Linked DNA regions of Homo sapiens: region 2 is linked to region 1. The links come from fine-mapping of genetic effects on gene expression. A gene starts in region 1. The other region holds a variant in brackets. All regions are shown on one strand. Distances are from middle to middle. Region 1 holds the start of REN (renin). Region 2 overlaps KISS1 (KiSS-1 metastasis suppressor).

Region 1 (5,373 bases):
ACTCACACTACCCTTTCCTTCCTACATCCTTCTTGCGTCCCATGCATTCTACTTACCCCCATTTTGCCCATGAACATGAATGCAACTTTTATGCCTATCAGCATGGTATTGTAACAGAAATGATTTGTTATCTTCCTATCACAGGTTACTGTTACCAAAATATTTTCACAATCATTATTTTATTTGCTCTCATAAGGTGGATGATTTTATTACTCCCACTTCACAGCTGGGAACGTGGAGGGTCAGAGGTTTGGCCCCAAAGAGGTTGCATTTCCCACTGTTTACTCACAACAGCCTATGCTTTGGACCTTTACTTCTTGCCATTTCCTTTTCAGAAAATCCTTTCCTTCTTCCCTTCCTTTTCCCCCCAGTTCTTTAGTCCTCCAAGGCCCAACATGTACCCCCACCTCCAGGAAGCTTACCCCAAGGCCTCCAGCCCACACCGGCCTCACCTTCCCGTGGGCCTCAGCTCTGTTTTTCCTTGGGTCTCACAGCCCACACTGTACAGCTTGTGGAACTGGTGCCGTACGGTGGTGAAGACAGTGGTTGCAGGGGGCATGCCTGAATCCCCTTACCACTTATGTGATTCTGAGAAAGCTACCTAACCTCTCTGGGCCTCTTCTAAGTCTCCATTAACCCCTCTCTAACAATGGGCCTAATGGTAGTACCTACCTCAGAGTCACTGTGCAGATGAAACCATGCGACCACTGCTCAATAAATGTAAATTGTAGGTGTGTATATGTACATGTTCACCTTGAGAATGGAGCTCATTCATTCAGCTGTCCCAAGTGCCTCGCATGATGCTCTGCACATAGCGGGTAGCAAAATTCCTATAATACTGTTTCAAAAGCTGGATTCCCCCTCCACCCCTTGCCCAATTCCATTCTTTTTCTCTTTTGGATAACAGCAGGGGAAGATGTTTTTACTTTCCTCTACCTTTATCCTGGAGTGCAGCTGCTTTGAAGCACCCATCCTCTTACCCAGTGCTCACAACCCAGCAATTACTCTCCGAGAGCCTCAGAGCAAGGGAAAGCAGTTTCGGAAGCAAAAGGCCCAGTGTGTGTTGAGGCTTAGCCTCTTACATATCACCTCCCTGAGCCTCAGTGTCCTCATCTGCAAAGTGGGAATGCTGAGTTGTTGGGGGCATGACTTGAGATGAGACATGTGAAAAGATCCTGTGACACCCTAAGCATTTTATAGGCTTAGCAACTATTACCATTATTAAAGTGTGCCTCCCTACCTTCAGGACTGCTGGTCATATCTGCTGTCCCCAGATTGAAAACCCCTTTCTCTGTGAGGCCTTTTCTCAAATGCTGTCTCTTCCCCTTCTTCAGTCTTTTTTTTTTTTTTTTTTTTTTTTACATAAGGTCTGGCTCTATCACCCAGGCTAGAGCACAGTGGGTCAGTCTCTGCTCACTGCAGCCTCCACCTCCCAGGCTGAAGTGATGCTCCCACCTCAGCCTCCCGAGTAGCTGGGACTACAGATTTGCACCACCACACCTAGCTAATTTTTGTATTTGTACAGACAAGGTTTCACCATGTTGCCTAGGCTGGTCTTGAACTCGTGAGCTCAAGCGATCTGCCCACCTCAGCCTCTCAAAGTGCTGGAATTACAAGCATGAGCCGCGTGCCCAGCTTCCTTCTACAGTCTTAATGAATCACTTGTTCCCACAAGGCCTGGCACCTAGGGGATGCTAAGGTTTTCTCCTTCTAATTGTGGGCTACCTAAAGCCTTGTTTTTTTCTTTCTTTTTTTTTTTTAGACTGAGTTTTGCTCTTGTTGACCAGGCTGGAGTGCAATGGCGCTATGTCGGCTCACTGCAACCTCAGCCTCCCAGGTTCAAGCGATTCTCCTGCCTCAGCCTCCCAAGTAGCTGGAATTACAGGCATGTGCCACCACGCCCGGCTAATTTTGTATTTTTAGTAGAGACAGGGTTTCTCCATGTTGGTCAGGCTGGTCTTGAACTCCTGACCTCGGGTGATCTGCCCCCCTCGGCCTCCCAAAGTGTTGGGATTATAGGCGTGAGCCACTGCTCCCGGCCAAACCTTGCTTTTGATATTTGTAAGAATCTATCCTGTAGTACTAACAGTAGCTGGGCTCTTACAACGTGCCCAGCTTTCTATGCCTTATCTCCTAAAATCCCCAAAGCAGCCCCATCAAGTAGGTACTGTTATTATCATACCTGTTTAAAATGATAAACTGAGACTTGGAGAGGTTAAATAACTTGCCCATGATTCCAGACCTAGTTTGTTCTGCTAGTGAAGCAAAATTTAAATGAAGGCAATCTAACTCTATAAGCCTTGCATTTAACCACGATATCAAGCTGCTTCCCTGGTACAGTTAACTGTACCCATGCCCCGACCCCCGTCTTTTTTTTTTTTGAGATGGAGTCTTGTTCTGTCACTCAGGCTGGAGTGCAGTGGCACGATCTTGGCTCAGCAATCTCCACCTTCCGGGCTCAAACGATTCTCCTGCCTCAGCTTCCCGAGTAGCTGGGGATTACAAGTGCCTGCCACCATGCCCGGCTAATTTTTGTATTTTTAGTAGAGATGGGGTTTCCCCATGTTGGCCAGGCTGGTCTCAAACTCCTGACCTCAAGTGATCCGTCTCAGCCTCCCAAAGTGCTGGGATTACAGGCAGGAGCCACCGCGCCCAACCACCCATGCCCTTCTTAATATTCAGGCTGTGAGCTCCTCAAGTGCAAGGGGCATGTCCTAATACTTCTGAGTTCTCTACAGTGCTTAGTTAGCATGGTGCTCTGGGCAGGAAGCAAAAGTCACAGCTTCTAGACCTGACTACTAGTGTCATTTATTGGGCAAGTCACTTGACCTCTCTGAACAGGTCCATACTTCCCTGTCCAGCTGATCGTAAGGACTGAATGACACCGCATGTGGAAAAGCCAGGGTGTTGGGAAGGTGGGAACCCTGCACCCCTCCCACCCCTTCTCTGCCTGAGTTACCAATTACCGTTTAAAGGTGGTGGTGTCTGTCGGGAGACCAAAGGTACAGGAGCCCCAGAGCAGCAGCAGCAGTCCCCAGCGAGGCATCCTTCTCCATCCATCCATGCTTCCCTCAGTCTGGGGCTCTCTCTGAGATCCACTGAGGTTCTGTGGCTCCCTTAGCCCTTCCCCTTTTATACACTCCATGCATGGGGTGATTGCAATTCTGCTCTGCCCTGATTTATTACCCTGGGGTAGATGGCAGGGCAGTCAGCAATAAATCTCACTGCGGGACAGAGCTAGGTGGGTGAAGGGTACCCAGGTTTCCGGATGGGGAGCAGAGGGGCTGGAGGAAGGACAGCTGTGGGAAAGCAATCTTGTGTCCAGTGACGCTAGCAGCCCTCTATCTGGCTTGGCCCTGTGACCCCTGGAGCAGGCAGAGGCTGATGAGAAACAGCACTGCTCAGGGCTAACATCAAAACTGGGACAAGCGTAAAACCTAGGTTTCCAGCTCCCTAGCCCAGACCCAACCCCTATACCCTGGAAGCTCCATTCTCTATATTAACTTTGGCTTTGTCCCTGACTGGCCTCTCCCAGGCTACAGCCCAGTTTTCCCATCTAGAACATGGGTGAATCTTCATGACTGGTTTCTTGGCAGGAAAAGCAACAGCTGGTTTAATTATAAGAGTAGAGGGGCCAGGCATGGTGGCTCACACCTGTCCCAGCACTTTGGGAGGCCAAGGTGGGTAGATCACCTGAGGTCAGGAGTTCCAGACCAGCCTGACCAACAATGGTGAAACCCCATCTCCACTAAACTACAAAAATTAGCTGGGTGTGGTGATGGACACCTGTAATCTCAGCTACTCAGGAGGCTGAGGCAAGAGAATTGCTTGAACCCAGGAGGCGGAGGTTGCAGTGAGCTGAGATCATGCCACTGCACTCCGGCCTGGGCAATAAGAGTGAAATTCCATCTCAAAAAAGAAAGAGAGTGGAGGGAGACTTAGCATGACTGACTCCATTTTGCCTCTGACCCCCAGGGGTATTATCCTTTAGGCTAAAAGCTTCTGCTTAGCTCTGTACATAGACCAGCTAATTATAGGAGTTTAGCTTGCAGTTCAACTTTAAAAAAAATGGTAACAGTTCCTTTCCCCAAACTAACCCCCAAGGAGATAAGGAAATATACAGACAAATAACAATGTTATGTTAAAGATGTATAGGAACATTGTGACCTGACCTAGAAAAAAGAAGTTTTACAACGTCCTCAGACCCTTGCTGGCACCCAGGTGTCTGTGGTCATCAGTCACCTCTTGATCCCAATCCCCTTCTTCTTCCCCTTCCCTTAACATAAAGAAGAGCCTAACGTTCATGCTGACTTCAGATGGTTCTTTATGATGCTGGTCCACCATCTTCTTGGTTTTCTGGTTCTCTGAATAAGGTAGCTTTCCTTGCCACAATACCTTGTCTCTAGACTTATTGGCTGTTGTGTGGCAAGTGATACGAGCTTGGACTCAGCTACTCATAGCCTTGAACAGTCTTTCTGTGTCTGATTACATTCAAGTATTGTTTTCATCAGGTTTGACTTACAGGTTATCTAAATGGGCTTCCCATAAGAAGAAGCAATCACACTACAGAAAGTTTTTCTTTGCGTTTTTGGTAGCTGGCCTAAGAAACAATTATTTTAGGCTGGGAAACAGTGGCTCATGCCTGTAATCCTAGTGCTTTGGGAGGATGAGGTAGGAGGCTCACGCTCACTTGAAGCTCGTTCAAGACCAGCCAGGGCAATATAGCAAGACCCCATCTCTGAAAAAAATTAGCTGGGTGTGGTGGTGCGTGCCTGTAGTCTTAGCTACTGGGGAGGCTGAGGCGGGAGGATCACTTGAGTCCAGGAGTTCAAGGCTGTAGTGAGCTATGATTGTGCCACTGCACTTTAGCCTGGATGACAGAGTGAGACCCTGTCTCAAAAAATAAAAGGAAAGATTTTACATTTTCTCAAGATAATTCCTCATTCTTGTTATCTTTATCAGGTTTTTGATTACTTAGGAAAACTGAGCTTTAGAAAGGTTAAGTCTTTATATTCATGTAACTTTCTGTATTGCTATTAAAGTCTTTTAATTATCACTTTTGTGAAATGAATAATTATTATTTTACAAAGACCGGCGGTTCTGTTTTGATCAAATGGTTTGAGGCTTTAACATTTTGACAAATGTCCTCAAAATCTAATCCTAAATTAAGTTTGAAATGTTGCTAATTCTTTATGTTTTGTTTTCCAGAGTCAAGAAAGCCTTTTTTTTTTTTCTGAGACGGAGTCTTGCTCTGTCACCCAGGCTGGAGTGCAGCGGCGCAATCTCGGCTCACTGCAAGCTCCACCTCCTGGGTTCACACCATTCTCCTGTCTCAGCCTCCCAAGTAGCTGGGACTACAGGCACGTGCCACCA
Region 2 (5,373 bases), 24 kb after region 1:
CAGACTGCTTCCCAAGACAAATCATTCAGGAAAAGGGTTGGGTTTGCTACCTGGCAGTGCTTTCTTAAGTGGCATAGGGGCTACAGAAGAAGGAAAGGCTACAGTATGTAGGAAGCTTATGGTGTTTGCAATTAGAATGTGGGAGTCTGACTCTTGGCTCTACGACTTTACAACTGCTTGAGCACACTACTTAAACCTCTTCAAGCCTCAGTTTTTTCTTCTATACAATGAGGATTGTACTCCCACCTCATGCAGTTGTCAGGATAAAATGAGGTAGGCCTGTGCTTGGCATGCTGCAGGTACTCAAAAATGGCTCATGAATGTGATAAGAACGATACTAGAGGCAGAAATCTCCCTGCATCCCTCTCACCCCTGCCCCCTAATTCCTAGCCCACATCTATTGTAAATGACTTACCAAACGGGATGGAGCCTGGGAAGAGATCCTCCCACTTCCAATCACAAGGGATGCCAGGCCCTGCTGATTTCTCCCCTTTGGGCACTGTCCAGAGACCCCAGGAAGAAGTAGGTTCGAGTGCCTGCAGGCAGCCCTACCTCCAAGTGTTTGGGCTCTGGTGCCCCACTCTCTGAGCCCACCCAGAAAGGCTGGAGGGAGGGAAGGGAATCCCTGGGGCTCTTCACAGCCTCCAATCTCCTCCTCTCCTTCCCTTCCATCTGGATAGCAGGCTCACAGGCTGGGAGCCACATGAAATCAGAAATCCCTTTTGTTCCACAGAGACTCCCCATATTTTCCCAAGACACGAGGCCAAGAACTGCAAAGCCCAGAGTCTCAAAGGTAGCAGTTCAGGCTGCTAGAAGCATGGGATGGGCATTCAACCCCCTTCTAGCTGTCTGCTGAAGCAGGGCCTCTGGTCAGCTAGACGAGAGATCTTGGGGGACCCTCGGGTTGCAGCAGTGCTGACAAGGACTGGAAGATGGTTAGAGGAACCCACACTATACACAAGGTCACACAGGCATGTGCATATGAACTTCATGCAGTTTCTTATATTGACCCCCCTCATACATGCCCTCTCACACACACCCCAGCTTCTCACACCAGAGAACACATTTCACTCTCCCGCACTTGAAGCGGCACACACACTCCTCCCATCTGCCCAAGCTTAAGCTTGTGAGGAAGAGTAAATGGGGTCACAGGAAGTTTTGTAAAAATTCAGAGCAGAATTCAGGAAACCATCAGCTTCTTCCTGCCCATCATCAGATAAAGGATTGCTTCCAGGGGCTAGGAGAACAGCATGCTTAATAGAATAGGTCTTGAGTTGATGATTGCCCTCCTAGAGGTACAGAGACACACCCCAGAGTGTTTAGGAATAAAAAGCCCTTCTAAATATCAACATCATGCTGTCATGATGCGTGATGATGTGAGCTCACAGCAGTATCGATAATTTGGGAGATCCTGGAGAGCTGTTTCAAGGGTAGAGATGGGGGAGCATGTTGTCATGTTCCCATGACAGCCTATCTCATTGCCATAGCAACACAGCTCTGCCTCCATCCTGTGGAGTCCTGGTTTCCGTAGTGGGTGGAACACTGTGTCACTTCACTGTATGGAGACGGGTCCTACGATCCCTCTGGGAAAGAACATTTTCATCCTAGACTGTGCAGTATAGGGGTACCCCGAGGCTAAGTAGTGCTGTGTTTTCTTGTCGGCAGGAGGGTGGATTTCCTGGGGTTTTCCCACTGACGAGCTCTACTTCTTCCTACCACAATTTCTACTCCCCAGCTATTGCACCCCAAAGTAAGTCCCCATGAGGCAGGCTACGCTTTCTTGATCTGCACCTGGCTGACTCAGATGGAAACCCTGCCATGGCAGAGAGGCATGACAGGTCAGTGGGGAAGACAGGCTCTGGTATCAGGAGACCTATTAGGCTTGGAGCTCATTGCCGATGTGTCTGGAGCGAGTGGTTTATCCTTCTTGACTTTAGGGTTCTACCTGTAAAGATGGGGCTAATGCATTCCCATCACCCTGGGTAGTTATGAGGATGAAGGAAAGCAATATGTGTAAAGACCCAACCTGGCTCCCTGGAGGGAAGGGGGAAGAGTGAGTGGCTGGTCCACTGTTGATGCCCTTTGCATCCCAGACCCCAGCAGGGGTCTGACTGTGGGGCTCAGATGATATTTAAGCCTCAATGGACAGGGCAGTGATTGGCATCATCTTCCAGATCAAGCTGCCCAACTTCCGTGGGAAAGGGAAAGGTACTTAATCAGTCCATCTCCCCCATGCCTCCCTTATCCCCCAGTACTACTCAAAGTGTGGGCAGTGAGCCATGACCCTCTGCAAAATGTCACCCATCCTCAGGGAGATAAGTCTGGGCATTCTGAGGACATCTCCAGAAATTTTTATAGAAATTTGATATCGCTGAAACATTCCAGCAGCATACAGTTTGGTCTTCTCTTTTGTTGTTTTTAAATTTTTCAGATTTTCAGTGATCCATTTTAATTTTTTTTTTTAAGTACCAATCTGCAATGGATTGGAGAACTAACCGCCTGTTCCTTCATTACACCTAGTGTGAGAAGCACTGA[C/T]CTTAATGACACCAGAGGCCTCTTGAAATCAGCTAACCATCCATTGAGGATGGAAGGGGAACAGCCTCATCAGAGCTGCTTGCAAAAATGAGCCGCAGACCACACGTCAGTGAGTTACGCAACATTTCTTTTATTGCCTCGGGTTGGAAGCTCCAGCGCCCCCTCCCTTAGCCCTACGTCCCCGCCCCCCGCCCCCGCCCCGCATGCTCTGACTCCTTTGGGGTCTGAAGTTCACTGCCCCGCACCTGCGCCCTCAGCCCCGCCCAGCGCTTCTGCCGTGGTTCCCTGGTGCCGCCTCCCGCTTGCCGAAGCGCAGGCCGAAGGAGTTCCAGTTGTAGTTCGGCAGGTCCTTCTCCCGCTGCACCAGCACCGCGCCCTGGGGTGCGGGGATCTGGCGGCTGTGGGGGGCGGACAGGCCCGGCTGCTGGGGGCTCCCGGAGCTCTCGGGGGGCGGGGACAGCGAGGTCCCCCGACGGCTCAGCCTGGCAGTAGCAGCTGGCTTCCTCTCGGTGCACGGCAGGCTCTGCTCCCCGGGGGCCAGGAGGCCCAGGGATTCTAGCTGCTGGCCTAGGACAGAGGGCACAGAAAGATGAGGCCGGGGTCCGGGAAAGATGGCTTTGCAACACCTCCTGTCATCCCATCCTATCCTTCTTTTCCTTCCTTGACCTTTTGGAAGCTCGGAGCTCAGTGCCATGCGAACCAGCACGATCACCTTAGCTGGGATGATTAGGCCCTAGGCGCCTCCCTCTTCCAACATAGCTTTGATTTAGAATGTTTGCCAGAATTATCTTAAATAACTCTCATATTACGTTACTTCCTTTTAGGAAACAAACAGGGTAGGGCATGGAAATAAAGAAAACCAAAGTATTTGCTGAACACCCAGCTCTGGGCCCCTTCCTGGCTGTGAGCAGCCTGGGCAGTGGGGCCATGTTAATTCATCTCTGTATCTCTCATAGTGCTTGAAACAGTGGCTTGCTCATAGTGGGGCCTCAATAAATGCCTGTTAAATACATAAAAGCTAAAAACGTGTAGTAACAGAAATCGAGAAAGTGGAGCTAAGACATTGTGGCCCCACACACCTGTGTTCCAACACTCGTCTTTGATAAGAATTGTGACCACCCACCCCCCCAACCCCGCCCAATAAGCTACATAAGGACTCAATGAGAAACAAAAATTATCTAGGTCACCTTAACTGGCTCTCTTCCTCCATCCTGGGTATAACTTCTCTCCTTCATTCTGAGGATTAACAAGGCTAATTTGGAAGGCACTTCACATGCAAGGCTCATTAAGTTCACTGTACTTTTTGGCTGTAAAATAGGGCAACTAGCTCTGTGTAGACAATAACCCCAGCCCATTGCGGCAAGAGATTAGTGGAAATGAGGCCTGGTGTGTGAATGGGTGTGAATAGATGTGCTGGGGCGGCAGTTGGCTTTGAGCCCTGCTCCTCCGTGCCCTGGCACAGTCTGGAAAAGAGGAGTGTGGACCTGGTCCAGAGTTAATGGCAGTCGCCTGCGAGGTCCCTCAGCCCTTGCCCAGGGCCTGGCTGAGGTAGGAGGAGGATGGCTTCCTCCCCAGTTGCGCACGCTAGACCAGTAGTAAATCACTGTTCAGGCTGCTGTTGGTGACCTCACCTAAAGCCTTTTGCCAAAAAGAGCCAACAACCCTATATCCCTGGGCAGTGTGGGGTTATTTTCTGGGGTAGCCTCCCTCACCCAGAAAAACGCCTGATCCCAGGACAGAAGACACGCTTGGCAAACGACACCCGGGGCCGTGTCCTCTGTGCTCTGGAAGGTCTTATGGGCATATACGATGACATCAAATGTGTAGAGGGCATGCCCCAAGTTTTATAGCTGGGGGAACTCAGGTCCAGAGAAGCTAAGTCATGGGTTCTAGTTTGCCCAGAAAGCTGACACCAGGAAGTGTGCCAAGCCACAGCTCCTGACTTGGGGACTAGTATTGTTCTAGCTTGTGCCACTCACCAGACACACTCCTGGGGAGCTCTGACACCTGCTGGGTTTCCACAGTGTTTGAGCGACTCTGGGGAAATCTCTTTACCTCTGTGGGTCTCAAATTTTCCAGCTTATCAGTTCCCCAATGAACTGGAGACAGTTCATTGTCTCCAAAAGGTTAATAGGTATCAAATATCTGCCCTTTGGTTTAGGTTTTTTTTTTTTTCCAAATTCTCCACAAAGAATCTGAGGTCACCGATAAAGCAAGGTTGCATATGAAGTTTCTTCTCAACATCGGCACAGAGAGGTTGCTGACGTAGAGCAGAGAACACAGTGTGAGGAAACCATGAAAGAGCTCAAGGGTTAATAAGCCCTGGAACCTAGGTGGGCGGACTGAGGCCATCACAGAGGCAAGGCATCCGTCACTTGCAGGGTTAACAGGACCCCCTCAATGAGTTGCATGTGTGCCAGTCTTAGATTTCCACCAAATGCAATGTTAAACTCACACCAGTCGACTAGATGGAAAATACGGGAAAGCTCATTTTGCAACAACCCACTTGCTCCCTCCCACTCCTTTCCCCAGAGGATACATACCTGTGGGTCTAGAATTCCCCACAGAGGCCACCTTTTCTAATGGCTCCCCAAAGTGGGTGGCACAGAGGAAAAGCAGTAGCTGCCAAGAAACCAGTGAGTTCATCTTGGTGAGAAGAGGCAGGTCCTAGAAGTGCCTTGAGGCTGAGACAGAGAGAGGGAACAAAGACTAGGTCAGGCACAGGATCTGGGCTGGGTGCTGAGGGCAGAGCCCAGTGCAAAAGGGACAGTCCTCCAAGAGAGGGGCAAGTTCTTGCCTTTGGAGGCTCCTGGTAGAGGGATGAGTCTAAACAAATAT

Evidence for each region. PIP is the estimated chance that this variant, and not a neighbour inherited with it, causes the effect. A credible set is the group of variants that fine-mapping cannot tell apart.
Region 2: its variant is the best candidate, but not a certain one, in a credible set for the expression of REN in testis (GTEx, PIP 0.57).

Annotation. Positions count from the first base shown.
Region 1 is chr1:204,163,230-204,168,602 of GRCh38, forward strand. It overlaps REN (renin), which reads right to left and starts at 3,108. Exons shown (of 10, transcript NM_000537.4): 1 at 2,967-3,108. The coding sequence starts at 3,064. RefSeq lists a silencer at 1-2,964, promoters at 3,093-5,373, 3,105-3,256, 3,257-3,691 and cis regulatory regions at 3,168-3,190, 3,175-3,482, 3,352-3,367.
Region 2 is chr1:204,187,696-204,193,068 of GRCh38, forward strand. KISS1 (KiSS-1 metastasis suppressor) reads right to left here. Exons shown (of 3, transcript NM_002256.4): 2 at 5,079-5,219; 3 at 2,646-3,102. The coding sequence starts at 5,181. The coding sequence ends at 2,789. Among named protein-coding and RNA genes, the nearest start is that of KISS1, 6.1 kb to the right of the region's middle. RefSeq lists an enhancer at 1,787-1,866. The variant C/T (reference allele first, on the strand shown) is at 2,536.